Regions from separate parts of the Homo sapiens genome. Here regions 2 and 3 are each linked to region 1. The links come from fine-mapping of genetic effects on gene expression. A gene starts in region 1. Each other region holds a variant in brackets. All regions are shown on one strand. Distances are between the middles of the regions. Region 1 holds the start of CACNA1E (calcium voltage-gated channel subunit alpha1 E). Region 2 overlaps CACNA1E (calcium voltage-gated channel subunit alpha1 E). Region 3 overlaps CACNA1E (calcium voltage-gated channel subunit alpha1 E).

The links. PIP is the estimated chance that this variant, and not a neighbour inherited with it, causes the effect.
Region 2: its variant is fine-mapped to the expression of CACNA1E in whole blood (TOPMed, PIP above 0.99).
Region 3: its variant is fine-mapped to the expression of CACNA1E in whole blood (TOPMed, PIP above 0.99).

Annotation. Positions count from the first base shown.
Region 1 is chr1:181,477,260-181,487,924 of GRCh38, reverse strand. CACNA1E (calcium voltage-gated channel subunit alpha1 E) reads right to left here and starts at 4,408. Exons shown (of 48, transcript NM_001205293.3): 1 at 3,915-4,408. The coding sequence starts at 4,180. RefSeq lists enhancers at 2,561-2,690, 3,653-4,176, 4,177-4,701, 5,504-5,633, 5,685-6,217 and silencers at 5,054-5,183, 5,224-5,353.
Region 2 is chr1:181,497,552-181,508,216 of GRCh38, reverse strand. The region is part of intron 1 of CACNA1E (calcium voltage-gated channel subunit alpha1 E); the gene reads right to left. Among named protein-coding and RNA genes, the nearest start is that of CACNA1E, 19 kb to the right of the region's middle. RefSeq lists enhancers at 2,723-2,952, 3,373-3,492, 10,065-10,214. The variant C/T (reference allele first, on the strand shown) is at 4,578.
Region 3 is chr1:181,535,216-181,545,880 of GRCh38, reverse strand. The region is part of intron 3 of CACNA1E (calcium voltage-gated channel subunit alpha1 E); the gene reads right to left. Among named protein-coding and RNA genes, the nearest start is that of CACNA1E, 57 kb to the right of the region's middle. The variant T/C (reference allele first, on the strand shown) is at 5,082.

The DNA of each region.
Region 1 (10,665 bases):
CCACACGAAGCATGTTCTCCCCTGCTGAGACAACCAAGGCGATGGAGGTGTGGGGGGAATATCCTATTGCCCAACTCTGGCATAGAGTCTCCAAGCCAGACACACTACTTCTTGCCTTCACACCCGTGACCTGGAAAAGTTCAAACAAGTGTGGGGCATCCTGCAAACCACATGAGAGATGCTGTATGGCCCACAGGGTAACTGGCCCTGGGCATGAAACAGTGAGAGCTGGTAAGCATGAGGCACGGTGAACATGGGAGGGCACTCAGAACAGCCAACTGCCAGAGAAGATCTATTAGATGAGCAAAAAAGAAAATGAAAACGAGGAATCGTATAGAATGTAACATCACATTTTAAATCACATTAGCATTTTTAAAAAGAGTATGGTATCCACTGCAGAGGAAAGTGCCATAAGAAAATAAAATTATCTCCCTATGCAGATGTAGCTTCCAAGAAAAATGAAACACATTCAGAGTAGGCTGTTGACTTGCCACCATCTTTCATGCCAAATCTGGGTTATCTTGAGCATTTCTTCCCATAAGAACTAGACCTCCCCTATTAATAACTGGATAAGATTACCCTCCCCCTCCAAGTCGGGGTGATCCTAGAAGCATAAATTAAACCATTCCTTTTACTTAACCAATCTTTTCAGACAAACATGATTAAAGACCAGTAATGCACAGCATGATGAGACCACTAATGCGGCACATAGAAGTGTACATTATCCCCCTCGTCCTACAGTGACTTTCTGCAGCCAATGAAAGTGTAAGTCTCAAAACGTGTTGTAACACAAACAAAATCCTCAAGCATGCTAAATGTGCAAATGTCAATATGAAAGCAGGTCTTGACATGTTTTCTGAACAACTGAACAACCTTCCTTTCTTAAAAAAAAAAAAAAAAATCTGGCACTTACAAAGAGCAAAGAAGTACTTCCTAAACTTTAATGAGCATATTAATCACACAGGGATCTCATTACAATGCAGATTCTGATTCAGCAGGATTGAAGTGGGGCCCAGGATTCTGAATTTTTAGCAAGCTCCCAGGTGATGTGGATGCAGCTCCTTGCTCTCTTTGAGAGGCAAGAATCTAGAGGACTTCACCTGAACTAAGACCCCTCCCCACTTCAGGCACGCTGAAATTTCTGAAAGATGCCATTAATAATAACAACTAGTGATTACTGGGTAATTAGATAATGTTTTAGGCATGTGATATATATTAAGTCATTTAATTCTCCCAGTATTATTATTATTATCCTCATTTAACAGGTAAGAAGACTGAGTCACAGAGTAATGAAGTAATTTTCAAGGTCAGAAAGCTGGTGAAGGAACTAGGATTTCAACCCAGGCAGCCTAGCTCCAAAGCTTTATGGGCAACCACTACCCAGACTGACTCCCAATAAGACAAAGCAAGATACTTGGGAAGTTATTTGTTTAGAAAGGAAAGGAAGGTGAGACTAGGAATTTAGGTGCGTTTCCCACGGAAGCCCAATGTTTCCACGTGGTCACCACCAGAGGGAATATATTAGTCAATTACATTGTACATGGTGTATTTTATATTTTCCAACAGGGCTCCACTAAACACCTTAGCAGATGTTCCCTGAACACTGTTACCACAGCCTACATGCTGTAGAACCACTGTGAAATTTCCAACTATGCAGACAAAAGAGACCATTGGGACAGGGCTCGGGGCCAAGGCACTGAGCATGATGCTGAAATCAACTCCCTCGAGAGTCTCCCGTTTGACTCTCTTTGGTCCATTTTTGGCCAAAGACAAGGAAAGGGAGGAGTAAGACTCACAGCCGCACCTTGCGCGCTCGCAACGCCTGGTGGAAAGGCGGTGTCTTTGCAGCGGAAGAGAAAACGTGAAAAAAGGTGACCACGTGGTGTAGGAAACGTGCCTGGTTTCTCAGCTCCAAGGCTGGGCCCGGCCAGAAGTACCCGAGGTGCTGAACCCGGGTAACTGGGGAGCCCCGGGCCGCCGGGAGTTTCAGCGGCGCTGTCCGAGGTGCCAACGATGGCTGCTGGCACACTTTGCCACCCGCGGGGCGGTTGGGCGGCTTTGTCTACCGCAAAGAAACGGGAGGGCGCCTGTCTGAATAAACACGCCCCTAAGAGAGGGGCACAGCAAGGCAGCACCTGGTGGATGGGAAGATTTAGAGAACCGTAGAAGCCGAGTGAGAAAGGAGGGCCCAGCTGGGAAATCCGTAGACTGCCTAGAGGAATATTTGCAGCCGCAGCACACAACACAATGAGATCTGTCCGCTTTGTGCAGCGCACCGGCAGGCGTGACTGCAGGGACCCGACCCCTCCCCCGCCCGAAACCTCCACCCTAGCTAGATACGTTCAACTCAGGCAATGGATGGCCTGGGATCACTCTGTGAGAGTGGAGCAGGGGAGCGGGATGCAGAGAGGAGAGAGGGAGAAGCCCAGCCGGGGTTGCTGTGGGAGGATGCGAACAGCAGCAGGAAGAATATCTGCTTAGAGATGCTCCTTCGTTTCTAATGAGGGGGTGCTGCCTAGAAGCACCACGCGCCAGCCAATCACCGAGCTGCTGAGGCAGGGAACTAGAGAAGAAGGGGAAGGCCAGAGACTGGGGTTGGGGGAGTAGGGAGATGCCCAGGCCCTGGGGGAAATGAGCCGCGTGTCTGGCTAATACTAGAGACCCAAGGCAGCTCCAGCTGCCTCACTGCTGCACACCTGGACGGTGGGGGTGGGAAAGAGGGAGAATAGGGGAGAAAAGAAGGGGCCTCCATTGCAGATGCATCCCTCCCAAATCTCCCTCCCAAAGTCCCATGTCTCCAACCCCATCCCCATATTTAACGCCAGACCACTAGCTTGCCTCCTACTAATCCCCTTCACTGCCTCACCACCCCCAATTCCCAATGGCCTTGCCAGGCGTCCAATCCTTAGTGAAGAACAAGGCAGTGAGCTGCCTAATCAGCAGTCTGCATTTGGTGCACTTGATTAAACCTGCAAAGAAGCTCCTTCCATGCCTGTTCACCCTGACACCACCACCATCAGAGATGGCCCCCACCAGTGCTTTGGGGAGAGCAGTTCCTTTGGAGCTAGGGAGAGAGAGACTGCATGCACACCTCTGGCCTCAGCGGATGAATTCAGGCCCAGCCGATCCACCTGGATCCTGGATACTGGGAGAGCAATCAGCTGGGTCAAGCACTAAGAAGCAAGAGTACCCAACCAAGGACCAAGGACAGGATGGGCCTGATGAGCTGCTCTTTCTTGGCTGAGAGGAGAACTCCAAGTTTGAGCTCCTTGGGCTGTGGCAACAGAGATCACCTCCCCTGACAGACACTCACTCATGCCACTTTCAGTGGAACTTAAACTTAAGTCCCTAGAGTTAGCTGAGTCCCCACCCAAAAGCCTGTTTTATTTATTCATTTGTCTATCTGTACACAGGGTTTTGGCCCTGGGAACTTCTGAACTGATAAATCCCCTCATGGAGCCTTGACTTCCCTACAGGAAGACAGTGCGGTGTCTCCTGGTTGGTGGGGATACGGGCAGAGTGGCTGGCTTAAAGAAAGGAAAATGAGAATTAATTATGAAAGGAAGCATTGGGGCAACCCAATCTATGTAGAGGGCGGCATGTGAAGGGAGTAGGGGTGGGGAGGGGGCTGGGAATCAGACAAAGCCCAGCCCAGAAAGGGATGCACCCAGGGACACTAAAGATTTCCACATAGGAAAAATAAAAAACCAAAAGTCTTACCTTGAAAAACACTAGTGCCCAAACGGGTCTCCACGGCACCAAGCTTGCCCCTTAGATGCACCGAAGAGTGTGCTTCAGCAAAGGGGCAAATTGGCACCAGGAAGGGGTGGGGGATACATTCCATGCTAGGTACCCCCCTTCACCCGAAGAAATGCAAAGGGGGAGAGGGAGTTATGGTGGGCAAGAAAGGATATGGCCAATCGATGAGCTTCTTGGCATATTTCCTGACAATGTTATCTTCTCCGAAGATGAACAGGGATCTGTTGACGGTGAAACAGTTCTGCCGGACGGGAATGGGGTTGTACAAAGCCATAGTCCGCGCCCTCTGTGCTTTCGTCTGCTTGTAGGCGGCCGCCTGCCCCGAGGCCGGCACGGGGGTTCCTTGCCGGTTCCTGCTCTGGTCCGAGTCTCCATCGCCGGACCCTGGCCTGGCGACCACCGCCTCCCCGAAGCGAGCCATCCTGAGGTTTAAACAGACAGAAGACACACAAAGGTGATCGCGGCCGAACACCCGCACACAGCAACAAGCAGAAAGACACACGGAGACTCAGAGCCGCATCCAGACAAGCACGGGGACCACCGCCTCTGGGGAGCTCCGCGAGCTCTTCGGAGAGGCAGCAGCAGCAGCCCGCCGCTGTGAACTGTTGAATCTAAATGCAACCTCTGCGAAGCTCCATTCCTCAAGAAGGAAAAAAAAAAAAAAGAAAAAAGAAAAAAAAAGCGGGTGGTAGGGCTTGGGGGTGCCCAGTTTCTGGAGGAAAATATTTTTTTCAAAATGCCAGTGTGTGGTGGTGTTCAGGGACCAGAGAGGAGAGGGGTGGAGTAGGCTGCTCTTCAAACATAGCTCCTCTTCTGGCAGACGCACCACCTAGTTCAGGGAGAGAGGCAGGCACCGGCCCGCTAGGTAACAGTTTGGTGATTTATTGGTTGGGGGAAGGGGTGGGAAGGAGGGGAAAATGAAAACAAAAGAACTTTAAAAAAAAATAAACAAAGACGAGGACGGGGTTACGATGACATGCTTTATAACGCCAGCCCCTGCAAGTCCATCTAAGAAATTCCACCGCGAAGACTTGGGTCTTTATATCTGCCAGCAGAGACGCATCCAAAGGTTGGAGAAAGAGGGAGGGAGGTGGGGAGAGCGATATTGAGGTTCCTGCGTAAACCGCAATGCCCAAAATCTCAAAATAAGAAGTCGATCCAAGCGAAAAGGGACAAATGACTTCAAAGCTCCTGCGCTTGGGCTAGAAGTTGAGCAGCATCCAGAGAGCAGCGAAGCCTGAGTGCCAGCATCCGCCCGGAGCGCTCGCCACCGCCGCCTCCCCGGATCAGCATGCAACAGCGATCCGCGGCTGCGCCGCCGAGAGGGCGGGAGTGCGAGCGGGCGGGCGGCGAGCACCGGCGGGCGAGGAACAGGTTGCAGCCGAGCCTCGCGGCGGCCTGGCACCACACTTGTCCACAGACCGAACTTCCTCACTAACGGCTCAGTCTCCCTCTTCCCCGCAGGCAGCGCCCTCGGCGGAGCACTGGAGAAGATGCGGAAGGAGAATGGGGAGGCGAGGCAGAGGACAGCGAGCGGCGCGCAGAGGCGCAGCGAGGCGCGCAAGAGCGCTGGGAGAAGCGGGGGAGGAGCTGGCCAGGCGGGAGGGGCGGGGACGCAGCCGGAAGGCTGGAGGTTCCTGGAAGGTGAGGCTGGCTTGCCTTCTTGATTTATGTGGCCAAAGGGTAGCAGCCACCTCTGCAAAGGTCCAGTGAAGAGTCCCCTTTCCCCCAAGTAATGCCGAGAAGAGAGAGGCAGGTGCAGCCAGCGATGCGGCGGAGTCTCCGCAAGAGAGCGAGGGCCTGGCGTGGGGCGCACACGCACGCGCGTCTTGGGTCCCTGCAGAGAGGTGTCCCCAGTGCTGTGCCCTGTTCGGTGCCGGGAGCGGTGCCACGGGCCCGCCGCCGCCCTAGTAAGGTGTCGGGGCCTTTGCGCGCCTAGCGCCATGGCCGCGTCGCCGCTCCTCCGCACCTCCCAGGCTCCACGAACACGGCCAGGCATTTCCAAGTAGAGGGCAGAACCCTCTCCCCATCTCCCCACTTAGCACCTGGGAGGCCCCGTGGAGGAGGCTAGGACCTCTGGGGGTTCCACACTCTGCTGGTGGTGCTGGCTCCTGGCGGGAGCTTCTGCCCTCACGGGGCGGCCTCCCGGTTCCGCTGTAGGAAAGCCCTGCCCGACGTCTCCTGGAAGGGCCCTCCATGGTGAGTTATGGGCTAAAACTACCCTTCTCGAAATGCGAACAATCAGAAGGATCCTCCCGCCCCCCATCCTTTACTCCCAAATAAGCTCCACGGACTTTCTCAAACCCAACCCATTAATGTAGAAAAAAAAAAAAATAGAATTGGTATCTGAGCTGCAGAGGTGGGAAAGGTGGACTCCAAGCCCCAGGGAAAGAGCTCCTGTTTAGCCGCCAAGCCCTTCCCCACAGGTGACTGGTGGTTTGAACTGAGGGCAGGGACCAGCTGTCCCCTCCCATGTCCACACTAGCTGGGGCACACCGTCTTCTGTGTTTTCCTGCCTTGGCTCAACACATAGGCCTCTCCAAATCCTTCCAACCCGAACAATGGAAGGGAAGAAGGAAAGGAGGGGCTGAGGAAGGAAACAGACACTGACCAAAGCCCAGAGGTTGGAAACCATGGGTGAGTATGGCTTCACGCCTGTGAAGTGAGATTAACTGTTGAGAAGTGAGGTGATGTCTGAGTGCATGGCATGTGTGTTTCTACGGGTATGTGTCTGTCTGTGGGCAAGGCCCTGTGAGCACTGACATGTGTCTGTTGTGTGAGAATGTATGTGAGAGTGTGTGTGTGTGTGTGTGTGTGTGTGTGTGTGTGTAGGAAAATTCTCTACTGGAAATCCAAAGGAATGGTCTCAACATGTCCAGCCTGCTGCCCTTGGGGAAGGCATTTGACCTTTGGATTCAGGGGAGCCCATTTCAGGTGAAATTACTATTCAAGGTGAGTCAGCTGTAATTGTTACTTTGATTTCACATTACTGCCTTACTCTGTCCTTCCTCCTGCTTTAATCAGAGGGTCCTCTTCTGTCTGAATACCTAGTCAGTCGTGAAACGGAGGGAGGGTGGTGCTGTGAACCATGAAGTCCCATCAGCCAGTCACTTAGAACTAGTCCCAAGTGGCTATCTCGGTATCCCTGTAAACTACATAGGGTTAGAAAAAGGGCTTTCAGAAATTATTAAGTGTATGTCGCTCCTTTCAGACAGTACCATAATCCATAGCACAAAATTCATTCAAATCATTAGAGAAGTATCTTTGAGTCCCTTCCAGGTGCCAGGCACTGTTTTAGGCACTGAGGATACTATAATGAACAAGATGGGTGATGACATAAATCATGTAGCTTTTTACACTAGATTATACTAGATTGTATAACCTTGCAGGCCAGAAAGCTTCATGAACTTCACTCTCATGCTGTCACCTCACCCCTTTCCTTTGTGGTTCTGCCTCAGCAGGCTGGCGGCATACCTTCTCAATGCCCAGAATAAGCAGGGCTCACTAGCCTTTTACTTCCCAGACTTAGTTCTTGGAACATCAGAGATCCCCGACTTGTCTCTTCAGTGTTATCAGATGTCAGCAGAGATCCAGTATTCCACGTCCTGTATTCTCTTTGGCTGTTGTAATTCTTCAGAGACCTAGAATACTCAAGATGGGATACTACATGTGCAAATGCGACGACACACTGGAGTTGATATCTGCCTTCTTGCCTTCCAAGGAGACAGGAATCATAAATGCATAGGTTGGGAATTAATGTGGAATACCTTAGGGAGTTTCAGCACCTATGTGAGTTAAAAGGGATAATTCTTGGAGGGTGCAGCCAAAAAGGAAAGGGGCAAACATAATGGCATAAATGGCTTTGTGAAGAGACTTGGCCTAAGGGCAGCAGTGCTAGCAGGAAGACAGACTCTCATCTTCCACCCCCACCTGGCTGTCATAGCTCTTGAGAGCTTTGAGATCTATGAATTTCTATACTGGTTTCATACTCTCTAATCCCCCATTCTACCAGCCCCCAAGGCAGCTACAGTTGTTGTTTTTATTTTTTTTTATAGAGACGACGGTCTCACTATGTTGTCCTAGCTGGCAACTCCTAGGCTCAAGCAATCCACCTGCCTCAGCCTCCCAAAGTGCTAGCATGAGCCATTGCGCCCCGCCAGTGGCTACAATTTTAATGGTTGAATAATACATGTGTTTAATAGTTTTCAGTTTACATAAGCCCCACAGCTGAGCCTGACTCCAAACTTCTGAGGTGAGCCTGGTAACACATGTATCACGACCCTTGACAGACAAAGCAGCAGAGTTTCAGCAACGTTAAGCCGTTTGCCCACATCTGATAAGCGGCAGAGTGTGGACTTCTAACACATCTGACTTCCAATCTGCGGCTCTTTCTAAAACCCATGCTGCCCTTCAGGACAGCAATAGGGTAATTCTAAATTGTTTATCAAGAGAAGAAACTATACAATGACACTAAGCCTATGGAAATGCTATGCTTACCATCCTCAAATTGAATTTGATCAGAGGCCAAGTGTTCCTGGCACCATGCCCTCAATATCCAGGAGGATCCTCAGAAAAAGTTCATGACCAGAATACTGTAGTCATGCGGTATTGCATGACTTCATATGGGAATTTCTTCATATGGGAATTTGGTGGGCATTCTCCTTCCAGTGCCCCGAGTTCCACTGTCCTATTAAGGATCCACAAATGGAAATGTGGAAAATTAGCAATTAGTCATAACTCTGATTGGAAACCAGTCTGAAGACCATCTGAAAATCCCTTTCCAGTCTCAGAGGGACAGTAACTGTATTTTCCTGTTGTCAGAGCACCATCTACTGGTCACTGAGCACGAGTGCTTGGCAGCCCAGCACCCCATGCACCATGCCTCAGAGCTTAGATATTCCTAGGCTCTGACCTCTTGTCAACAGCCCTCTACTCCCCTATGGGACTTTGTTGAGGTACTAAATTTCACCACAATGCAGCCAGCCCATCTCACAGTAGTTGGAAAGTGCAGCCCCACACACACCCTCCCAAGTTAAGATGGGGTTACCAAATGCTCCACATGTTTTTCTGAAAGCAATGACCTGCAAAGTGGAAACCCAACAGGAGCTAAGGAAGCAAGTGGAAAACTTTCCTACTTTATAAAGCCCATGAAGACTATTACATTTCAAAGCATTTATCCTGCAGCCCCTCTACTGCAGTGTATCATCGAGCTGCAATCAGGTGTGAAGGGGACTGGTAGGTAGTCCCTCCAGCCTCTTCTGGAAAAGGCAGAAAACAAGGTGTCCACACTGCCCCAGATCAGGCAGCCTGTGGGAGTTTGTACTAAGACAGATGGACATGAGTGGCAAAGTTGGAGAAGCAGTTGGCCTATTACCCTCATTCTTAAGCTCTTCCCAGATCTGTCAGGCCTTGGGCCATCTTCATAAGAGATTTTTCACCCATCACTGAGAAGTCTGTGAATGTGGGCTTCATCCAAATGGCCTGTGCCCCTCCCACCAGGCCTGCTCCTTCATCTTCCCCCACCCTGCCAGTTACACTCAGATAGCTTATGCTTAAGTTATCAGAGCCCCTTTTGTTCTATTTTTCCTCCGTTGAGCTTTTCCAAGAAATAGACTCTTATGCAAAGCAGTGCTCTAAGGAACATAATGCAGAGAGGATTTGGGAGTGGGTTCTTAAGAAAAAAGTTGGCAGGAGACCATGTGCAAATGCATAGTGGAGCAGAGGAGCATTATGGCAATGCAGACATCTTGGGAGTCTGGTGGCTTTCACAATACCTCACAGCCCTTACTTGGGTGAAAACATAACTTCACATCCTTATGTAATGTCCGTCCCTAGAATCAGCATCTCTCAAACCTAAGCCTGAGAAGCCCCACACTCCAACATGCTATCAGCTAACCACAGGTCAGCAAAGTTGGTTTTAAAGTGTTTTAAAAACCATTCATTTATGACAACCCATCACTTCCTGGGTGCCAACCGTAATGTTTTCTCATTGCATCTTTGCAGAAGGACTGTGAGGCACATCCTGTTATCTGAACACCCAGAGAGTCAGGGACTTGTCCAAGTGCACAGAGCTAGGAAATAGCAGAGCTGGATCTCCTAATAATAAGGACAGGATTCTTCACAATATGTGACCATTATTAACATACTGCATGTCAAAATAATATTTTCCTTGCTTAAGAGTCAAGTTATAGGCAGGATCTTGAGCTTTAGAGAGGTAAGGCATGACCTTGAACCAGAGAGTCTCCCAGAGGGTTTAATTGTTAAGAATAATACCATTCTGCTCCACTGGGCTGTTGTGAAAATTAAGTTAGTTTATATGCATAAAGCTCTTAGATCAGTACCTTGCACACAATAAGTATGTGCTACGTAAGTACTTGTTATGTACATTTCACCTTCAGTAGCTGTGACCACGGTAACACACTGGAAACACTGCATGTCTACAGACTCTGTTTCTGAAAGCCAACTTCAGAAGTGCAGCCAGGGATGAACACACTCTGTTGTGCGGGGGATGGACAGAGGAGCAGAGACATGTAAGTGCCTGAGATCAGGTCAGAAAGAGGAATGGAGGAAAAAAGGAAAAAAAAATAGTAGAGACCAGTGTCTGGAGACCCAAAGGCCATGATACCTGAGAGAGCTGTGTGTTTGTTTACTTATTCATGAATTCATAAACCCATTTAACAAATACTCATTAATCCCCTTTGATGAGCCACACATTGTTCTCAGGGATTCTGGGGCTCAGAGATAAATTAGACACAGTCATAGCCTCTAAAAACTTACAGTTCAAAAGAGGAGAAGGGAAAACATACCCACAAAGGGCTCGAATACAAGGCGGGATGTGGAGTGCACCACAGGAGAGTACTGGGAGACAACAGAGCAGGGAGCCATCCCCTCCCACTGGAGGCAGCT
Region 2 (10,665 bases), 20 kb before region 1:
GGGCCTTTAATACTTTTGCATACAGTGGGCACACACCCCATCACACACACACACACACACACACACACAAGGCGTTTGGGACAGCACACAACATTTCCCAAACTTGCTTCACCTTGTAACTCTTTTTTTCAGAGCATCTCTTTTGAACGGTGTTCCCAGGAACATACCTGGGCAGCCTGACACAAAGTGGGGGTCTGTCTGCCAGTCCCCAAGAGCTGGGGCAGGAGGGATGATGGATCTGACTGGAGTGAAACCAGGGCCTCTTCCATGTCATCCCCTGTCCTGGTTCCTAACAAAAGTGTTCACAACAGTGTGGGGCTCACCTGGTCACTCCTCACAGCTGGAAACGTCTCATGCAATTTCAGACACCTGCTCAGCAGATCCAAGAAGCCCAGTGCCTGCCCTGGAAGGTAGGACTGGGCACAAGTACTTTCTCGTTCAAGCTGCAGACCTCTCGCATTCTAATGGGTCTATGTGGGGTCTATGATTGTTTTGGGGGGTTGAATCTTCTTCCCCTGAAAACCTGAAAGTGATAAGCACAGGCTTCAAAGTAGATGGGTTCTCAGTGCTGAGCCTGCAGGCAAGACAGGTCCTGGCAGCCATGTGCCTCCGAGGCCTCCCCACTCACAATACCCACTTGGACCATGGCAGCTCCTCCACTGCCCCTGACTCTCCACTCACAATATCCCCTTGGACCATGGCAGTTCCTCCACTGCCCCAGCTCCCTGCTTCCACACCCATACCTGCATTTTCCTAGCCAGTTAACCCAAGTATATTGCTCCCTATAAGGACCTTTAAGCTCAACTAGTCCAGAATGTCCAAGGGCAGATATGTGAGGTTTGTGGGGACACAGGCTAGCTCAGGAAGGTGTAGCCAACACCACCGGAAGATGCTCCAGGCAGCGGAATGGCTCTTGGCCCAGGTGCTGATGAGTCAAACTCCCAGTGACTGGCCAGGTATCTGGGTGGCTGAGAATTCATGAGGTCTTGATGGCTGGTGCTACCCAAGGCCCTAAAGTCTAGAATCTAAAGGTGGGAGTTTGGTAATTCACAGGTTCTAAGAAGACCCTATTCTCACTTCCTCTCCAGCCAAATCCTCTTCCCACTATCTGATGTGAGGCCCATTCACAGCAGCAATCTTCTGGCTTAAAAATATTTTTTTTTTTGCTTTACATTTTTAAAATTGTTCAGATATATATGCCCTTGAGAGGGATGTCCCTTTCAGCCTTATAGGGCATCTAGACCTCAGGATGAATTCATGGCTGCGGTAATGAAGAACCTGCAGTGAGAATGTGGAGATTCTGTGTAACTGTGGGCTAGGTGAAAGAATGGATAGTGGCAGGGAAATCTCAGGGGAGGTGAGCAGAAGAGACCATCCAAGTCTGCCTAGGCCCCAGCCACTCTCCCTTACAGCCCTGTTCTTTAAACTCTTTTCCACTTCCCTTTCTGAAGAAAGCACAAAAAAGAGGCATTTACATCTAGGTGCTTCTGCCACCACATGCAATGGCGTTTCTTCTCCTTTCCAGTCATACATCAAGACCAAGCTGAAATGCCACCTTGTCAGTGAAAGTTTCTCCCCGTGCCCCACAGCTCTTTGAATTGTGTGACTGTATTATTTCTTCTCCTATTTAAATCAAGAAACTATATCTTGAAAGCAGGAGTTTTGCTCATGTCTCTACTGGCAGTGCTTAGCAGAGCCCATGGTATATAGTAGGAGCTTAGTCAATGTTCAATGCAGGTAAGAATGAACATGAGGCATTCACTAAGGAGCCATTACAAAGACAGGGCTTTGCTCACCCACTCTGGCCTGAGCCATGGCTCCTGCTCACTCCCACCCTTGCAGGCTGCCTCCGAGGCACCACTCCCATTTCTTCCCGACAGCAAAACTTCACACCCCAAAGCAATGGCTCTGCTACATCCCCAAAGTGAAGAGCCTAGACGGCAAATAACACCCACCCACCAGTCAAGCTAGTGCCCCTCAACCTGGCAGACTGGACAAAGACATGACTTAGAAAGGTCAAAGGGAGCTCCGAGTCGCCACGGCCTCAAAGACCATCACCCTTCATGGCAACCACAATCAGGGACAAGATGGAAGTCTGTCCAGGACTCTGACTCTCTGTTCTAGAATTCAGTGACACTCATTACACTCTGTGCCTGACACTGTGCATATTTTAGGGAAGAATATCTATCCCTGGTATCCAGATTGCTTGTGTTTTGAAATCTTGAACAAATGGAGATGATGGGGCAGTAAGGACTGGGAGCCCCAGGGCAGGACCTTGCCTGCCTCACTCACCACTGTACTTGGCACACAGTGGGGCCCCGGTAACTGTTATTTTATTAATAAATTAATATTCAATTGATAAATGAATCATACAGGGAAACTAGAGCCAGAGGTATCCTTACAAAAGGTACCCACACTCTCCACACTGTATACCCATTTGAACTTTTTATACTGTCCACTGTAGACACACATGACCTATTTAAAAAAGAAAATAAACCAGCATACATGGAAGATCCCTTTCATGTTTAAAAAAAAAAAGAGAAGGCCAGGTGCGGTGGCTCACGCCTGTAATCCCAGCACTTTCAGAAGCCGAGGTGGGCAGATCACGAGGTCAGGAGATCAAGATCATCCTGGCTAACACGGTGAAACCCCATCTCTACTAAAAAAAATACAAAATGTTAGCCAGGCATGGTGGCACGCACCTGTAGTCCCAGCTACTCAGGAGGCTGAGGCAGGAGAATGGCGTGAACCTGGGAGGCAGAGCTTGCAGTGAGCTGAGATCGTGCGACTGCATTCCAGCCTGGGCAACACAGCAAGACTCCGTCTCAAAAAAAACAAAAACAAAAAAAAAGAGAAGGGAGAGAACAAGAAAAAATTCTGTCTTGCTGGAAGGATGATGAGTCTTCTCTCGGTAGCAGGGTTATTTTCACTTTCTTCTTTACTCCTCTAACCATTTTCTGAGTGTTCAAATGAGCATGTGTTCATTTATCACTACAAAATCAATTAAAGCTATATGTATCCTGAAAAGAACAAATCAACACAAAAACCCATCCCAACCTGAGAGTGAGGAGGAATGCGATGGCCAGAGAAATCAGAAAAAGACTTCGGAGAGGATTAAATGCAAGAGAATGAAGGGACCTGGCCAAAATGAGGAAATGACCATGAAACCACTTTGAAACTTGCAAAAGACATCTTCCTTCCTGCCTTCCCTCCTGTACCAGCTCACTGCTCACTAGAGGCCTCATTTCATAAACTTTACTGGCAATCTCCTCAAACACCCCTTCACTCCTCGTTCCCTCTGAGCCCATTAATGAGGACCTGTGTTGCTCCAACTCTCTTTCTAGTCTAGCAGTTTCAAGACAATCATTAGGGAAATGATAAAAATAGGTTCACTTATTGATTTATCTCCTTTACCCAATGCTCCTTCCTTTGAATGGTTGACTTGTTTCCTTAGCAACATGGCTAATTTGAGCAGCACGACGTGGCCTGCACACCTGCCATTTGTTCATTTCCTTCTTGAAGCACAGAAAGCTGGGGCAAGGGTGGTGATGCTGGTTCTGCTGTCACCGGAGCCCTGGGGGCCTGGCCTGGAGCTGAGCTCTTCATCTGCCTGAGCCTGAAAAGCCTCCTCATCATCACCTCTCAGGTACAGATCTGTAGGTACATGCTTGGGAAGGACTTAGGCCTCAGGCAGTAAATATTGGGTGTCCCCAGGCAAACATGCATCTCTATCACCACCAGGGGGCTCATCCTGAAGACCTCTGTACTTAGCTGTCTCCTCCCAGAGCCTATGACATCCGAACACTAAGAAGGCCATGCTCTGACAGGCAGGCAGATAGAATGCTGTGCACTCTCCCAACTTCAGCCTAATGCAGAATATGCTTTTGTGGGGAGCAGTCGGTGGGCACTCAGGCACTTCCTGGAAACTCCTGGGGGGGTATAGAAGAGTCCACAGTCTGAGGGGAGGCATTCCTCAGCCTCCTTTACCCATTTCCACCCCTCACCCCAGACCCTACAGGAAGACCTGTCTCCTTTTCTCCCTTCAGTCTCATGTTTTTGGATGTCTAAATCCAAGAGATGTAACAGCCTCAGAGGATGGCATGGACACCTTCATGCATGTCTTTCCACCTCTTCTTCATGTGCACATAAATATCATCCTAATAAGTGGACTTTGACTCAAAGACAGTAACAGAGAAAGAGCCTTAACTAGTCTGTGATTCCCTATTAGCATGACACCAAATAGACATTTTACATATGAACAGGAATGAAATACAGCTATCCAAGCCTTCCGTGTAACTTCAGAATCTTCTTCAAGACCTGGAATGCAATGGAAAAAATGTAGCTTGGTAAAGGAAACCAGAGCCAGGCCTCCGACTGCAAAAGCTGTCCCAACACAGTACTCAAGAGTCAATGAAGGGTTATGACCATCCATTCCCACAGAACCAAACAAGAAATACAAAAGGACTGAAGCCTAAAATGATACCGGAATCTGAACTCCCTCTGAAAACTGTAAAGTGTTGCACAAATACAGTTACTTTCAGTATCCTACTAACTCAATCTTTCAGCATCTACTGTGG[C/T]TCAATACTTTGGGGAAAGCATCTGTTGGTGGTTACAGCCTCCAGCCCTCAGGAGTGGGCTGGCTGGCTGTAGCCATGGACTGACACAGAGGAGACCAACTCCAATAAAGGATTTAAAAGAAAATTATGGTAATGGGCCTCCAGGAAAAGAGCAAAGACATTTGGCCCAGAACCTCCTGAGAATATGGAAAGCGCATCCAAACACCAGTCCCCAGAGGAGGATTTATGAAGCTGATGGCTCTGATGCAATCTCTCCCAGTGATTAGAAGGGATATTAATCACACCCCAGGCCAGGGCTAAGAACAGGAGGGGTTGAACCATCACAGAAGTCTGGCTCCAGTTCCCACAGACCCTGATGGAAATGCAGTGAGATCATGCTGGTGAGATCATATGACCCTCGTCTGAGCCGACTGAGAAAGATACATCTGTCCTGGAGGGACGAGTAATGCCGAAGACATAAGACCTTGTGCCTAAAACCCAGACATAGCAATAGTTATGACCATCACTTCAACAGTGTGTCTGCATCCCTCATGGTCTTCCTCACCTTCCTAGAAGCAGACATTCTTACAGAAATCTCTGCTTCCTAACCTGTCTACACAAAAGGAAAATTCAAACCAGCCCTGTTCAAACAGGCCTGGCCTGGCCAGGCACAGTGGCTCACGCCTGCAATCCCAGCACTTTGGGAGGCCGAGGCGAGTGAATCACTTGAGGTCAAGAGTTCAAGACCAGCCTGGCCAACATGGTGAAACACTGTCTCTGCAATTAATACAAAAATTAGCCAGACATGGTGGTGGGCACCTGTAATCCCAGCTACTTAGGAGGCTGAGGCAGGAGAATAGCTTGAACCCAGGAGATGGAGGTTGTGGTGAGCCGAGATCATACCACTGCACTCCAGCCTGGGGGACAGGGTGAGACTCTGTCTCAAAAAACAAAACAAAACAAAAAAAGAACAAGCAAGCAAAAACAGCCCTGGCCAGTCCAGCTCCCTTCCTGGAGGGATGTTTCACATTTTCTCCAGATCATGGCATAAAGTAGAAGTCAGTATGAGGTAAAAAGATGGAGAGCCAAGAGGGCTTTCTAATGCCTCTCAGCAAGCCGCTCCACCCTGCCCAGGTGAGAGGGCCCAGGTTAAGAGATAAGCTATGGTGCAAGGAGTCTTGGCCCAGGGCTCCTTCTGGACTTCTTTGCACTCACTCCTATGGCTGCCCTGGCAGGACATGGCAGCCCAAAAGAGACCAGCCCAGAAAAGGGAATAAACAGACAGAACTATTCCTGGAGATTCTGAGGAGCTATAGATGAACTTTTCAATTCTCTGAAAATAAATGTTAACCTTCCAAATTTATCAATATATGGACTATCTTCCTATTTGGGTAGTCCATACTTTTAGGTTTCCTGGGTCTGTTCTGGGCTGATCAACAGAAGGTGAACCACACATCACCTCCAAAGGGCAAGAGGGCTAAACCCCTGTGTTTCTCCATGTGACAGTTAGCAGTGTACAACTCTGGCTGCAAACCTGGAAGTCCACCCTGCATACCCCTCCCATCCCCTCTCTAACCACGGCAGGAGACATGCACTGTCAACAAGCAGAAAAACATGAAAGAAGGCTCTGCCTACTCCATACTGTCCCATGTCATCATCTCATTGCTTTCCTTGTGCAATTTTTCTCACCACCCAACCTCATCTTAAAAAAAAAGACTAAAAAACCAAACCCCTTTTCTTTTTTTAAAACAAAACAAAACAAAAATGTATCATGTGACTTCCAGCCTTAACATCAGTTTTTTAACTTTGGTTTCCATGGTGGTGGGATGCAACCTGCCATCGCCATGACAACAGCTGCCTCTGTTCAAATTCACCATCTGACAGGCAGTCCTGAACAGACACACACCTCTCTCCTTCTTAATCCCTCTCTCTCTCTCTCTTCCCCACTCCTGCTGTCAAGAAGATGGAAATGCCATCACACCTACTCCTAAAAACCTAATGAATGAAAGACAAATAAAGCAATATTGAGAACATAACAAAGAGGCAGAGAACTCCCCAAAAGGCCTTTTGTTTGCCAATACAATCCTGCTGCTCTCTCATGGAGGTCAGTGGACTCAGTTACTCAAAGCAAAAGATCCTAAGCATTACCCATTTAATGCTGGCTGTGAAGGCAAGTCCAAATTCTCATTACTTTAGACCAAAGAACTCCCATCTGACTCCCAGGACCCTGCCCTCTGGATAAAGTGGCTGAAAGGAAGTGCACATGATTGCTACTTTGGTGAACCAACACTGAGGTCAGTTCCAGACTCATCTGGGCCCTGATTCCCAAAGGATGGGAAGTGCTGGTTCTGAGAAAATAAGACAGTACTGTCTCCCTCCCTCCTCCCACTGCCATGCCCCTTGCAGTTACAGACAGCTGGATAAGTCTTAACAAATTCATTTGTTTTGCGTGTGACTGGATCCTGGACTCAAAACGCTGTCATTCAACACACAGTTTTGGTGAACAGCAGACAAATGATTGAACGCTACAGAAAAGGGAAAAAAGAAAAGGGGAGCATTAAAAGCCTCTGGAAGAAAACAAAACAGCAGTGGGAAAATTACCTGTTTCAGAAACGAGAATTTGTGTTTTGATGACACTCTGATGAATTGGAGCCCATCAAGAGTTCTGGCAGCAACGTGCATTTCAGGGAAGATGACTATGAGGTGCAATCAGCAACCCCACCCAAGACTACACCCCACTTCATATCAACACCAGCATCATGGAACTGAGACAGCATAAGAAAAATGAAAAGCCTTTTGTGAAAGAGTCCATAGATCACCTGTGGGAGAATGTTTGTTTTCCTCTGAAAACTCTGCAACTGTGCCCTGGCATTCAAAGACACCTACTGAGCCTGCAAACCACGTGAGATAATGTTGAAAGAACTAGGGATACTCAGCTTGGAAAGGGAAGACTTGAGAAATACATCACAGCTGCTTTCAAATATCTGAAGGGCTAGCTTGTAATAAGGGGCTCAGATGTTTTCTAAGTTATTATGGAGGCAAAGACTAAGACCCAATGTGCAGAGTACCCATCCGAAGACAGATCTGGAGCAATAAAGAGAAGAACTTCCACTGTTCCACAAGTGAATGGACTATTTTGTTAAGTAGAAAACTAAGTGTTGTGCTAATAGATGTTTAACTTCGGGGGAAAAGCCCCAATGTGTAGCATTTGCAAATTTCTGGGGTATAAATACTCTCTCCATGGCCAATTTCAAGCTACCATCTTGATATCACTGAACATGGAGTCTAGAAGAGACATACAGAGAGGACACTCAAGAGCTGGGACAAGCCAGTTTCAGCACAGCACTTATTGTGAGTTCCACATCCCCAGGGGAGTGTCAAGGATGTTAAGGCGGTGACTGCTGTATTCAATGGTAGTCATGCTGGATCAACCTTCATATGCATAAGGGGTGAACCAACCAGGTAGGAAGCAAGGTCAACAACTCTTAGTCACTTGCTCAAGGGCCTCCTGGGTGAGCCTTACTCTGTCCTTCAGCCTCAAATGGCCTCCTCAGCCAGACCTGCATTCAGGATGTCTGGTCCATCCCCCTCATCACAGAAGGCTGTTACCTGTGCAGCTGGAGGTGTGTCGGAAGCAGCCACAGGTGAATGGCTTTGTCAATGCAGTGACACATAAGAATTAATCACCCCATTCTCTCAGGCTAAATTTCAAGACACCCAGGCGGCTCCTGCTATTTCACCATAGCCTGCAAGAAAACTGAGAGGGAGCAGCCAAGACGTAATCAAAGTACACTCAAAAGAAACAGAAGGAAGTCAGGTAACTGGCTCCCCTCGGTCTAGAAGATCAGTGGATCTCAGCCATGGCTGGACCATAGAATCACCTGGAAAGCTTTTCAAAATTAAGAATACAGGGGTCCTATCTCCAGAAATTTGGATTTAATTTGTCTTGGCTGCAGTCTAGGTATCAGCATTTCTAGAAGTTCCCAGGCTTATTCTAATGTGCAGCCAGGCTTCGAATGCTGGAGACCAAGAAAGTTAATCGTGTCCTCCAATCAGCTGAAATAACAATGATGGAAACTAGAATCCCAGAGTCTCTACAGTGGGAACTGAAAGGCACCTTAGAGTCTTAGTAACTATTCCAACACACTCATTTTACAGATGTAGATGCTGAGACCAGGAAAGGAATGAGATTTTTCTAGAACCAGGGCTAGAAACCTCTCTGTACTCTCAGCCCTACACCCTGAAAAGCTTGGGAAAACTATTATCAGAATAATCAAATAAAATTCCCTGGTCTCTTAGCTCCAATAGAGAATTCTAAAAGAAAGGGATCTAAAGATCTTTTTATTTGAGCTGCTTCCTCCTTCCCAGGAGTACTCAATTGTTCTCAAAGAGCTACCTCTCAGGGCAGAGTCTGGATAGTTTGCCTTTCTTAGGGCTACTGAAGAGCCCAGCAACCATTCTGAGATGAGTGCTTGCCTAAGCATCCATCTATTCTCCCATCTGCTGAGATCTGCTCTTGGTTTTACACTGGGTAGAAGTCCATTGCCTATTGAGTTTTATATTATCATTTCACAAAGTTCTCCAGCAACATATTTGGGAAAGAAGAATATTAACCATTTTTCTGAGTCACTGTTACCAATTCTCACTGGATCTCTGCTGGTTGGCTTCACCTCTATGAATATCTTTCTCTTATCCATTCCTATTTTTTCTTACGTAAGTCCTTTCTTATTAGTCATGATCCTTATATCCAGCCTCCTATGCCCCAAACACCAAAAACATATACTTGCTAAGGATGAGGAAGCCCCAGAAGAGAAAGAAGGGACTAGAGAGAAGATGGTTGAGCACAGAAAGGGTACAGAGGAAAGAAGAGAAAATGTGACAAAAGGATGCTGGCACTTGGTCGCGGCCCTGGGTTCTAGGCTCTGCTCTGCCACTTATTGAGGCAAATCATTTAACCTCTATGGCCTTCAGTTTTCTTATGGATAAGTGTGAGTTTGATTCAAGTTTCTTTTTATTCTCTATAAATCTAATATTCTAGTATTCTGTTATGCTAATGAGGAACATGATGGGAAGGGAAATGGAGGAGAAAGAAAGAGCATACATGATTACAACTGAGAGAAGCCATTTTTGGTGAAATTACTAATGAGGAGATCCCACAATAGCATTCAAAAATGGAAATCCTGGCACACCCAGGGACATCTTGAAAGGGTCTAGAGTCCATGGAAATACTTCTAAATTGTCAAGCATAGGAGCTCCATGACCAGTTGGATTCGCTAGCAGCTTCTCTAACAGAGTTAAAGAAAAGCTAGAATCTTCACAATGGTGGCCTGGAAGTGAACCATTGTGGAAAAGCTGCCCTTTTCCACAAACCTACTATAAGCCTCTTCTATAGTCTTTATCAGGATATAAGAGTCTTTCTGCAGTCTCTCTATAACCCAACCCTCATTTCCTTAAAAAGCTGCATTCAGTATGTAAAATTTCAAGAGAAGGTCATGAAAGCTGCCACCTCCACACTATGACTCACACTATGGGTACCCCAGAACAGAAAGGACTGAGGGTAGACTTCTCTGAGAACCGGAAAAAAGAAAATGGACTTTCCATGCTAATATTGAAAGGGGAACTGGCATTTCCAAACCAAACGCGCTCTGCAGACAGATAAAGGAACTGCAGCAGTGGAGTTTTGGCGGGGGAAAGACAAAATAGCAAAGATCTCAGATTCCGACTCAAGCTCGCATTCCAGTGACCCAGGCCAGGATGTCTCAGGTCCATTTCATGATGACCATAATGATGGGAAAGAGATAGTTGCTCTTCTTCCATCTACTGATCCTTCACTCCTTCATGAGTTAGCCTCATACCCAGTGATGCTGCAGATGCATGCAAGTAGTTCACAGTGTCATCCTAAAAAGATACTCTGTTAGGGAAGAGTACCTGCTGGTCTTCTGGTCTAACCCAAGGCAGCATGAAACAATGGAAAGAGAGCAGCCAGTGGCACCAGTCAGACCACATCTATCTGTGACCTTAAGCTAATCATCTATAAAATGAGAACAATATCCACTTCACCCGGGGTTGGATTAAATGATACACTCCTCTAGAGCACACTGTAGAGTGC
Region 3 (10,665 bases), 58 kb before region 1:
GAACAGCAAAGAAAGTGTTTGGACTTGGGGCCCCTGGGGGAGCCTTGGGCCAAGAAAAAAATAAATCATCTTTCCTGGAGACAGAGGGACATGAAAGGGGTCTTGAAAGCTATGAGGGAAAAGAAAGGCAGGCGACAACTATTGTGATCAAAATGTGGAATTCACCCAAACTCCCTGAACAGAAGTCCATCAGGGTAAAGCAGACAGACTGTGGTTTCCTCGTGCCTCCTCTCTTTCCTGTTCTCAGGGGAGAAATTCTATCCTCCAGCTTCTTGAGCTCCTGCCCCCTGCCCTAAGGGACAGCCTGTGTGGAGCCAGGAGTAGTCAAGACCACACCCTCACGTGGGAGGAGGAAATCTCCCACCTCAGTGTGGGGGGATTCCAAGCTGGGAGCACTGCCATCCCCCCACAGCCCTGCAGGACACAGGGAGCCCACCAACTGGACCACTGTCTTCCCTGCCTCAGTGCGCTGAGTCCCTGGAATGGACGAACATCTAAAATGCCAAGTATGACAAAATACTTTGAGATACTGCATTTCAAATAGTCAAAAAATAAGGCAAAAGATACAACAAACATGGTATTATATGTAACAGGGGTTAATATTTTCTGTTATTTCTTTCAAATCATGTTTTAAAAAACCTAGACATTTCAGACACAGGCAAGGCTCCACCCAACCTGTTTTCATCCCCTCCTTCTGGGAGTAACTACTGTCCTGGGGTTGGTTAGATCAGCCCCATGCTTATTTATGTACACCCCCAACATAGCAAGACTTTTTTTTTTGGAGCTGAAATGTTTTTACCGTGGTCCATGAGCCACCTGCATCAGAATGATCTGAGTGCTTGCTAAACAGGCAGATTCCTTACCCTCTGGGGGTAGGGCCAAATTTTTCATTTTAAACAAGAACCTCAGAAGATTTTGATGCACGCTGAAGTTTGGAGAGCCACTGTGCTAGCTTAAGGCTCCAAACATTCTTAAAATGCAAAACAACCAACCACAATGACCAAAACAAACAGCCATACCCTGGGAAAGGTGACCCTTTAAATTGCTATCTGTCATTTGCTGCCCCATGTAAATGACAGATTCTGAAACAGGTTTTACACTCTCTCTGATTAGCAAACCCTCCGGGGTCAGCCTGCTGCTTCCCCACCATGTCCACAGCTCACTTGGGGCCACAATAGAACAACAATAAACATTTATTATCTGCACGGGAATGAAGGAGGGGGAGAAGGGTGCTAAAACGCCAGCTACATCTAAATTTTCAGCTTGCACCAACCCACCACTGCCACCATTTGTAGTATGCCTCTGGCACCTTATAGGTTACAATAAAGTTAAAACGTATACTGCAATTGGATATTTGTACTTTTGTTGCCATCCTAATTTAGAAGCTATATGCATTTTTATAGCAGCTTTATTGAGTTATAATTTACAACCACATAATTTACCCTTCTAAAGCGTACAATTCAGTGGGGTTTTTTTTTTTAGTATATTCAGGATTGTGCAACCATCACCACTATCTAATTTTAGGACATTTTCAACGCTCCAAAAAAACTCCAAACCCATTACCAGTCAACTCCCCACCTCACTTCTACCAGCCTTTCGTAACAACTATCGTACGCCCTTTATGGATTTGCTCATTCTGAACTTTTTAATATAAATGGAGTCATAAAATATGTAGCCTGTTGTGAGGAACTTCTTTATGTTTTCCAGGTCCACCCACATTATAGCAAGTATCAGTACTTTGTTGCTTTTCATTGTCGAGTAGTATTCCATTGTCTGACATGCCACATTTTGTCTACCCATTCATCAGCTGATGTACACTTGGGATACTTTTTGTCTATTGTGAATGATGCTGCTATGGACATTAATGCACAACTTTTTGTATGGGTATATGTTATGCCTCTTAAAATTTCTAGAGGTGAAATAGCTGGGTCATATGGTCCATGTTTAACATTTTAAGGAGCTTAAAAGAGGCTGTGCCATTTCACATTCTCAACAGCAATGTGTGAGGATCCAAATTTCTCCATATTCCTGCTCAATATTTGTTATTGTCTGTCTCTTTTATTGTAACCACCCTAATGGGTGTGAGGTGGTATCTTATCGTGGTTTTTATTTGCATTTCCCTAATGGCTAATGATGTTGCCTTGCTCAGTTCCAGCTGCTTTAAAAAATACCATACACTGGGTGGCCTCAACAACAGAAATTTATTTCTCAAAGTTTTGGAGGCTGGGATGTCCAAGATCAAGGTGCTGGCCAGTTAGATTCCTGGCGAGGACCCTCTTCTCAGTCTGCAGAGAACCATCTTCTTACTGTGTTCTCACATGACAGAGAGAGATGAAGCAAGCTCTCTTACGGCTGTTCTGAAAGCACTATTCCCATCATAAAGGCTGTACCCTTATGAACTAATTAGCTCCCCCAAACCCTACCTCCAAATATCATTACATTGGGGACTGGGGTTTCAACATATGAATTTGTGGACAGGAACATTCAGTCCATAGCAGATGAACATCAGTTCCTGTGCTTATTGGCCATTTGCATGTTCATTCTTTAAGCTCTTACTCAGGAACCTGAAACCCTAGTGAACAGTGGTTCCCAAAATGTGGTCCCCTCCCGACACACGCACCCATCAGCAGCATCAGCATCAGCAGGGATCTTATTAGAAATGCAAATTTTCAAGCCCTACCCCAGGTTATCTGAATTAGAAACACAGGGAGTGGGGCCCAACAATCTCGTTTTAAGCTTTCCAGACAATTCTGATGTAGGCATAAGTCTGAGAATCAGTGTTATAAGACAACATTTCTTACAGAGTATTCTCTAATATTTTAATATGTGACATTTGACTTTAAAAATTCCTTGGTTATATGAGTTTAGGAAACAATGGACTACGCAAACAAACAAAAAATCCTTAAGACTTGTTTATATTCTTTAATATGCTTATGAGCAACGTGTATTTCCAAGAAGGAGATCTAGTATGCAGCATTTCCCAAACTAATAAACACATCAAACCCCTTATATATGGAGCATCTTGCAGGACTACTGTTCCACAAAAGTTACTTTAGGTAACATTACTTTAAAGGTATTCCATAAATCAAGAAATTAAAAGGCATGCCACTGTATTAGTCCGATTTCATACTGCTATAAAGAACTGCTCGGGACTGGGTAATTTATAAGGGAAAGAGTTTTAACTGACTCACAGTTCAGCGTGGCTGGGGAGGCCTCAGGAAACTTAGAATCATGGCAAAGGGGAAGTAAGACACTTTCTTCACAAGGCAGCAGGAAGGAGAAGTGCTGAGCCAATGGGGAAGAGCCCCTTATAAAACCATCAGATCTCGTGAGAACTCACTCACTATCATGAGAACAGCATGGGGGAAACCACCCCCATGATTCAATTACCTCCACCTGATCTCCCCCTTGACATGTGGGGACTGTGGAGATTACAATTCAAGATGAGATTTGGGTGGAGACACAAAGCCAAACAATATCAGCCACTATTTCTTCATCAAGTCAAGTCTGTTGTTAAGAACATCCTTTAAACTAGTTCTTTACAAAGTTTTTTGCTTTAATTATCTATTAACACTTCTGAAAAGCAAGCTTCGTGGCTTAAAACAGTAATTAGCAATGTGGGGAATCTGAGAGTGTTTTTGTGGGGATCTTTTGCTCAAGATCTCTCATGAGGTTGCAGTCAAGAAACCAACCACAGTTGGAGTCAAGCTGTCAGCTGGGGTTTGCAGTTATCTGAACACTTGACTAATCTGGGTTTCCAGGACGGCTTACTCATGGCTTTGGCAGGAGTCTCCAGTTCCTGATCATGTGACTTTCCATAGGGCTCCTTGAGTGTCCTCATGATATGGTAACCTGCTTCCCCACCAAGCAAGTGATCCAAGAGAGCAAGGAAGATATGGCAATGTCTGCTAGGACCTAGCCTCAAAAGCCACACCCTCACTTCTGCCGTGTTCTCTTGGTCACCCAGACCAAACCTGATACAATGGTGGGGAGCAAGGGCCTACATGAGGACATAGAGACCAAGCAGCAGTGATCACTGTGTTAGTAAGTGACAAAGCTGAGATTTGAACCCAGGCAGTCTGGCTCCAGAGTTCATGCCACTGAGACTGCTACTTCTCTATTATACGAAGAAACAAGATCTCTAATACTCCTTGAAGAATGTGTGACTCAAAAAGACGAGTCTTTGCAGGTCAAAACATAACATGTGCTCCTCTGCTTGGTGTTAGCATGTCCACATGGTTTAGCAGCTGCTGCTAAGCACTGCGGCTTGCCCAGAAACAGAGCCTTTCAGAACATAGGACTGGAACTGTTCATTAGCTAATTAGGCCGTTCTCAACTAATCTGGGAGATGAGCATCAATTTACTTCTGTTTTGCTGCTCTCAACGATCCTGTTACCATCAAACTGCAAATCATCCCCTTCCCCCTTTTTTTTTTCATTGTCTACCTATCTAATGGGGAGATTCATAACTCCTAGTACCTCTAGCTCCTGAAATCCTATTCCTTGAAAATTCTCTCCATCTTTTTTTAAGTGTATCTTTAACTGTTATTATGTTAAACATATATAATGTTGGATATAAAGCTTCAACTTCTTTCTAAATGGAAAGTACAACATTTCTGCCTAAAAACCTGTTAAATCTTAAGATTTTTTAGGACCTTAAGAACATCCTTGCAATATTTTGCCCGCGTAGTGGAGGAAAAAACCTTTTCCTTTTACCCTTCCAGGTTCTCAGCTGTGGTTCTATAACAAAAGACAAATTAACAAAAGAAAAACATACAGATTTATTTAATTCAGGTTAAATATCCTTTATCCAAAATGCATGGGAGCAGAGGTGTTTTGGATTTCTTTGATTTGGGAATATTCATGTTATACTCACCAGTTGAGCATCTCTAATCCAAAACTCCAAAATCTGAAATGCTCCAATGAGCATTTGAATACCACGTTACAAGAAGTTACAGATTTTGGAGCATTTCCTGATTTTGGATTTTTGGATTAGGGATGCTTAACCTGTATAACTTTTATAAGACACAGGAGCCTTTATAAGGAAATGAGGACTCCAAGAAATGATTATACCTGACTGTT[T/C]TAATACCAGGTTTGATGAAGAGTGGAAAATTATGGAAAAATACAATAAGACAAAATGGTGTGGGCTAAGTACAGTAAACTAGGGGAGACTTTGCGAGGTCCATTTGTTCATATCCCTGTCAGTGTCCCTCTGTCTTCAGGGATCACGATGCTCCTTTCCTCCAGGGATGGGAGGGCACCTCTCACATGAGCGTTCTATGAGCTCTTTCAGGGGAAGACCAGAGAGTCTTTCCTGCACACGTTGTTTTTCAAATTCCTTTAGCTTAAAACATTGAGTACGCCAAGGTGACATATTTTGGGGAGCATATTCTAAACCCCATCATCTGCCTTCCTAATTCTCTCACTTTCATATGTGTCATTCATTTGTTAATTTGTTCAATATTTATCAAATATTGCTGAATAACTACTAAGTGCCAGGCACACAAGGAGTACACACTACCATATAAAAGCCATATAAAACACCATGTTGCCATAGAGCACAGAGATTAGGGTAGTAAACACAGGGGAATCAGCCCTGTGCCACGGTTTGGGAGATGAGGATACAGGGCATTCCTGATGATGAGGCACCTACTCGAAGCCCTCTGATGTTTATTGTGTGCATGTATAGAATTACAATAAATTCCACAAGGGATCTAGGAAATGCGTTTACATCGGGGGATTTTGTGAAGGTTCTCCATCTCCCTTATTATAAACAATCTGAAGGGTCTAACTGTGCATCACAAGCACACAACAGGATGTCACACCCAAATAGGAGGTGTTCATTGAGCATCTGCTGATGGTGATGATAAGGAGGAGAGAGACCAAAGAGGACCTAAATAGGAAGCATGTTTATTTGTTGTAAGACTGGGGACCTGAAATCTGGCATCCTGGTTTCTAATTTTACCTTTGTCCTATTTTAACACAAGACCTATAATAAGTAATACAGCTCCACTGTACACCACTTTTACATGTGGCCACTAAAAGCAAAGACTAAACTCTGGGTCTATCTTCTGTGGAGACAAGGTGAATTTTAACATGAGTCTTATCCATTAAGTAATGTAATGGTTTTATACATAATATTCAGAGGTTACTGCTCAGAGGAAGGATTTCTACTAAGAAAAATGCTTATCAGTTTTTTCAGGTTACTTTTACTCAACTTAAGAAAAGCTTCAGTGGGACTCAGACCTTGCGGGACACCTGGATTGAGAGGCTCATACAGAGCATTAGTAGTGGTAAAAGGACCATTAGAGAAGGGGTAAGCAGACCGGGAATAATATATTCTTCCTCCCATGAAGGTGATCATGTGACAAGGATTGGCTGGATCAACCTTCCATTTCTTCATTTGGCCTTAAAGGTATCCTTGAAATATTTTGCCTGTCTTCCTGAATTCTTCCCCCTTTCATATCTGCCATTCATTCATTCATTAATTCATTAATTAGCTTGTTCAGTCATTATCTGTTCATTTGGTAATATTTGCTGAATGACTACTAAGTGCCAGGCACACAAGGAGTTCAAATAGAATACAATACAACCCCTGCCTTCAAGCCCTTGGTGAGAAGCTATGTAGTGGAGGAGATACTAATGTCAACTGGGTGAGTGAAGTTTAGGGTGAGCCTAGTCAACGAGTAACGGAAAATAGAAGGAAATGGGGAGGAAGCACAGTCAGGGAATAGTCACTTAGCTGAATAGATACCAGCCAGAGGGATGGCAGGGTTGGTGTTACAGCATGCAAAAGAGCACATTCAAAAGGAAGGAGGCATGAAATAGCACACAATTCAAGGAACCACAAGTAGTCCAGTATAGCTGGAGGGCAGGCTGCATGTGGTCAGGTCAGGAGGGATCTTGTATTCTGCTGCAGAAAACAGCAAACCACTGAAAGCCTTTAGGCAAAGAATTGCAGAATTATATTACATTTTGTGAAACCATGCTTATCATCTTCTGCATGATCTTTTTCAAAATTCAACAGAAGCCTTTTCAGATTAACACTATATCACTGAACAGATTTTCACTTTGTAGATTCTCAGGACTTTGCTAGTCAGTTTGCTTTCCTCCACTTTCCCTGACTGAATGCCCTTTCCCATGTTCTCCTTGGCAATCTCCTACCCACCTTCAACATCCAGCTTAAATAAATATCACCTCTCTGTGTTTTTTTTTTCCCAAACACAGTCACCTTCTCCTTCTTCCATACTCCCAGAATACATTCAACAGAGCATTAGTGCGGTGATGTATTGCAATTGCTTCTTGTCACTCTCTTCCACTAGACTATGGGTCCCAGGAAGGCACAGATTTGCATTCCAATTTACATATACATGCACATTTACGTATAACACATGAAAAAGATTCCATTGAATCAGCAGTACTTTATTGAACACCTGCTCTGTGCCAGACAATGTGCTGGATGCTGGTATTCAATACAGAACCACCATATAAAGGACATCTTTCTCATGCAGCATGTATAAAAATGCATGTAATATATATGTGTATGGAAATTAGAATGTAAGTTCCCTTAAAGCAGATATATTTTTCAGTTCTCTGAACCTGAAAGATTAACCACAACTGATTTTTTAAAACTCATTACCTAATTTATTTGCAATCATATCATATGAGAAAGCAGAAAGATTTAAAATGGTTTCAAGCACCAATAACTCAATATGTAAAAATTTTAAATATTGAGCTGGTAGGGTAAGAATCAAATGGCCAGAAACACACAGCTTTTATATTACATAAAAACACTAAGACAGAAAACACTAGAACAGGGCACCCTGTCCAACTAACTTCTACAAGATCTTCTGCAAACTGCATGGAATATAAATATTTGGTGACTTTTCATTCACTCAGTATATATTTATTAGTGCCATTTTTGTTGTTCCAATATATTTCAGGTACTATGCTAAGTGCTTTACATGTGTTAGCTTAATAATTCTCAAACTAATCCTACATAGTAGGTAGCCCCTTATCTGGGTAAATTATTTAATCTCACTGTACCTCTGTTTCTTCATCTATAAAATGGCAATAGTAATAGAATAGACATCATAGGGTTGTTGAGGCATTAGATGTGTTTGCACAGGTAAAGTACTTAGAACAGTGCCTGACATACACTCCAATTTCAAATATTAACTGAGAATCACCACTACCACCCTCATGCTTCATCATCATCACCACCTCATTTTGAATGTGAAGTAACTGAGACTCAGAGAGGTTAGAAGAAAATATTGCCTCAACTTCTCTCTCAGACAGGTAGACTGAACACACACTGTGACCTCTCCCCCCTTCCACCAAATTCCTAGAAATCATTTTCTATATACATACAGTAACCACACTGGACAGAAAAAAGAGAAACAAACCCTCACTAGGCTAGATGTTGTGATGAATCCCCTCTGGACAGAAAGTAGCTACAATCTGATTTTTAAAAAGAAACCACAGGCCAGGTGTGGTGGCTCACACCTGTAATCCCAGCACTTTGGGAGGCCAAGGTGGGTGGATCGCCTGAGGTTAGGAGTTCAAGACCAGCCTGGCCAACAAGGTGAAACCCTGTCTCTACTAAAAACACAAAATTAGCCAGGTGTGGTGGTTCATGCCTGTAATCCCAGTTACTTGGGAAGCTGAGGCAGGAGAATCACTTGAATCTTGGAGGTGGAGGGTGCAGTGAGCCGAGATCGTGCCACTGCACTCCAGCCTGGGCAACAAGAGCAAAACTCCATCTCAAAAAAAAAAAAAAAAAAAAAGAAAAGAAAAAGAAACCACGGCCCCCAGCCCTCAGAAGAGAATATGACCACTCTAAATGTAGGCATGTCACCACAAGTGCTCCCACCTACAGAGGGTGGCCACTGGGATCTGATGGGATCCAGGTGACCAACAGGGTGATGGTTTGAATACAGTAGCAGGAAGATCAAGCACTCACTTTAACCCTCCTCCTTAACCCACCTTATCCCTCAGACCAGGCAGCAAAAAGGAAAATATGCCCACAAGCAGGGGCAATGGGCATGAAAGTTGGGTGAGAAAGATGGGGAAGTGCTCTCATGCCTTTCCATGCCTGAGAGGAACAGGAAGTGCTCTCTCCCAGGGGACTGGTCATCAAAGTGACCCATCCAGCAGCAGGTCTCACCACTTCTATACCCTTGCCAGACTATTAGCTTCATAGGTATTCTCCTTCCAAGAAGTTTGCACAAACAGACATGGTAGAAAGAAGATAATATTACAATCAAGAATCACCAAAAACTTGAGGAATTTCAATACCACGGAGAGAGAGAGAACAAACTCAACAATCAAAGAACTTATACTCAATGAGAATGAAGACATATAATTATCAGCTTAGAGAAAAGTGTGAGAATATTGCAAGCATTTTACAAAATTACCTAGAGATGGTGCAATTGAACATTTCGATAACTGAAAACTTTTAAAATGATTAAGTAGATTGAGTGGCAAAATAGACAGGTGAATTTGAGATGTGAAAAACTGAACTGAGCAGTGTTCCCAGAAATCAACACAAGAGTAAGAAAAAGATGAAAAATATAAAGAAAAGATTAAAAATAGAGGGAAGAAATTCCAACATCATTTAAAACAAGTGCTACAAATAAAGAATAGATAAAATGGAGAGAAGCAAAATTAAGAAGTGGAGAAGCAGAGAATTTGAAAGTAAAAGAATCAATTCAAAAGTACTTCCCAGCATTGAATAAAAATAGAAATCTTAAAATGCCATAAAAATAAAAATAAATAGAAACCATCATATAAGACACATATTAGTGAAATTTTACAGCACCAAAAGTAAGGAAAAAATGCTAATGCTTCCAATGAAAGAGGAAACAAAAGTTATCTGTAAAGAAATAATCATGTTGGCCAGGCATGGTGGCTCATGCCTGTAATCCCAGCACTTTGGGAGGCCAAGGTCGGTGGACCACCTGAGGTCAGGAGTTTAAGACCAGCCTGGCCAACATGGTGAAACCCCATCTCTACTAAAAATACAAAAATTAGCCGGGGTGATAGTGCATGCCTGTAATCCCAGCTACTTGGGAGGCTGAGGCAGGAAAATCGCTGGAACCCGGGAGGCAGAGGTTGCAGTGAACTGAGATTGCACTGTTGCACTCCAGCCTGGGCAACAGAGAGAGAATCTGTCTCGAAAAAAAAAAAAAAAGAAATAATCATGTTGATATTGGAAGCACTATCAGCCACAAAGGATAAAAGACAACAATCGAGTGGTTAAAAATTTAAAGGTAATCATCTATATGTGCATGGGTATGGGTGTATTACATATGTATGTATGTGTGTGTATATATGGCAGAAATGTAATTTACATTTATACATATATACATAAAAATATATTTATATACACACATTATAGTTTTATCAAAAATTTCAAATACACAGAGTAACTGAACTACAAAAGTTTTGTGATGATGTTGGTGGTGAATTTTTAAAAGTCAGAATTGCAGCATACATTTTTTCTCTTTGCTGCCCATTACCTTGTTCAAAACTTAGTTCAGGACCTCTAATGCCTAAGATTAGCCAATTTTAAAGACAAATGGGGGAGGGGAAACATTTTATAAATGTTTAAGCCTCTGAGGACCTGCTTTGTAAATCAACCTAAGTGCCCAAAATGATACTGAAC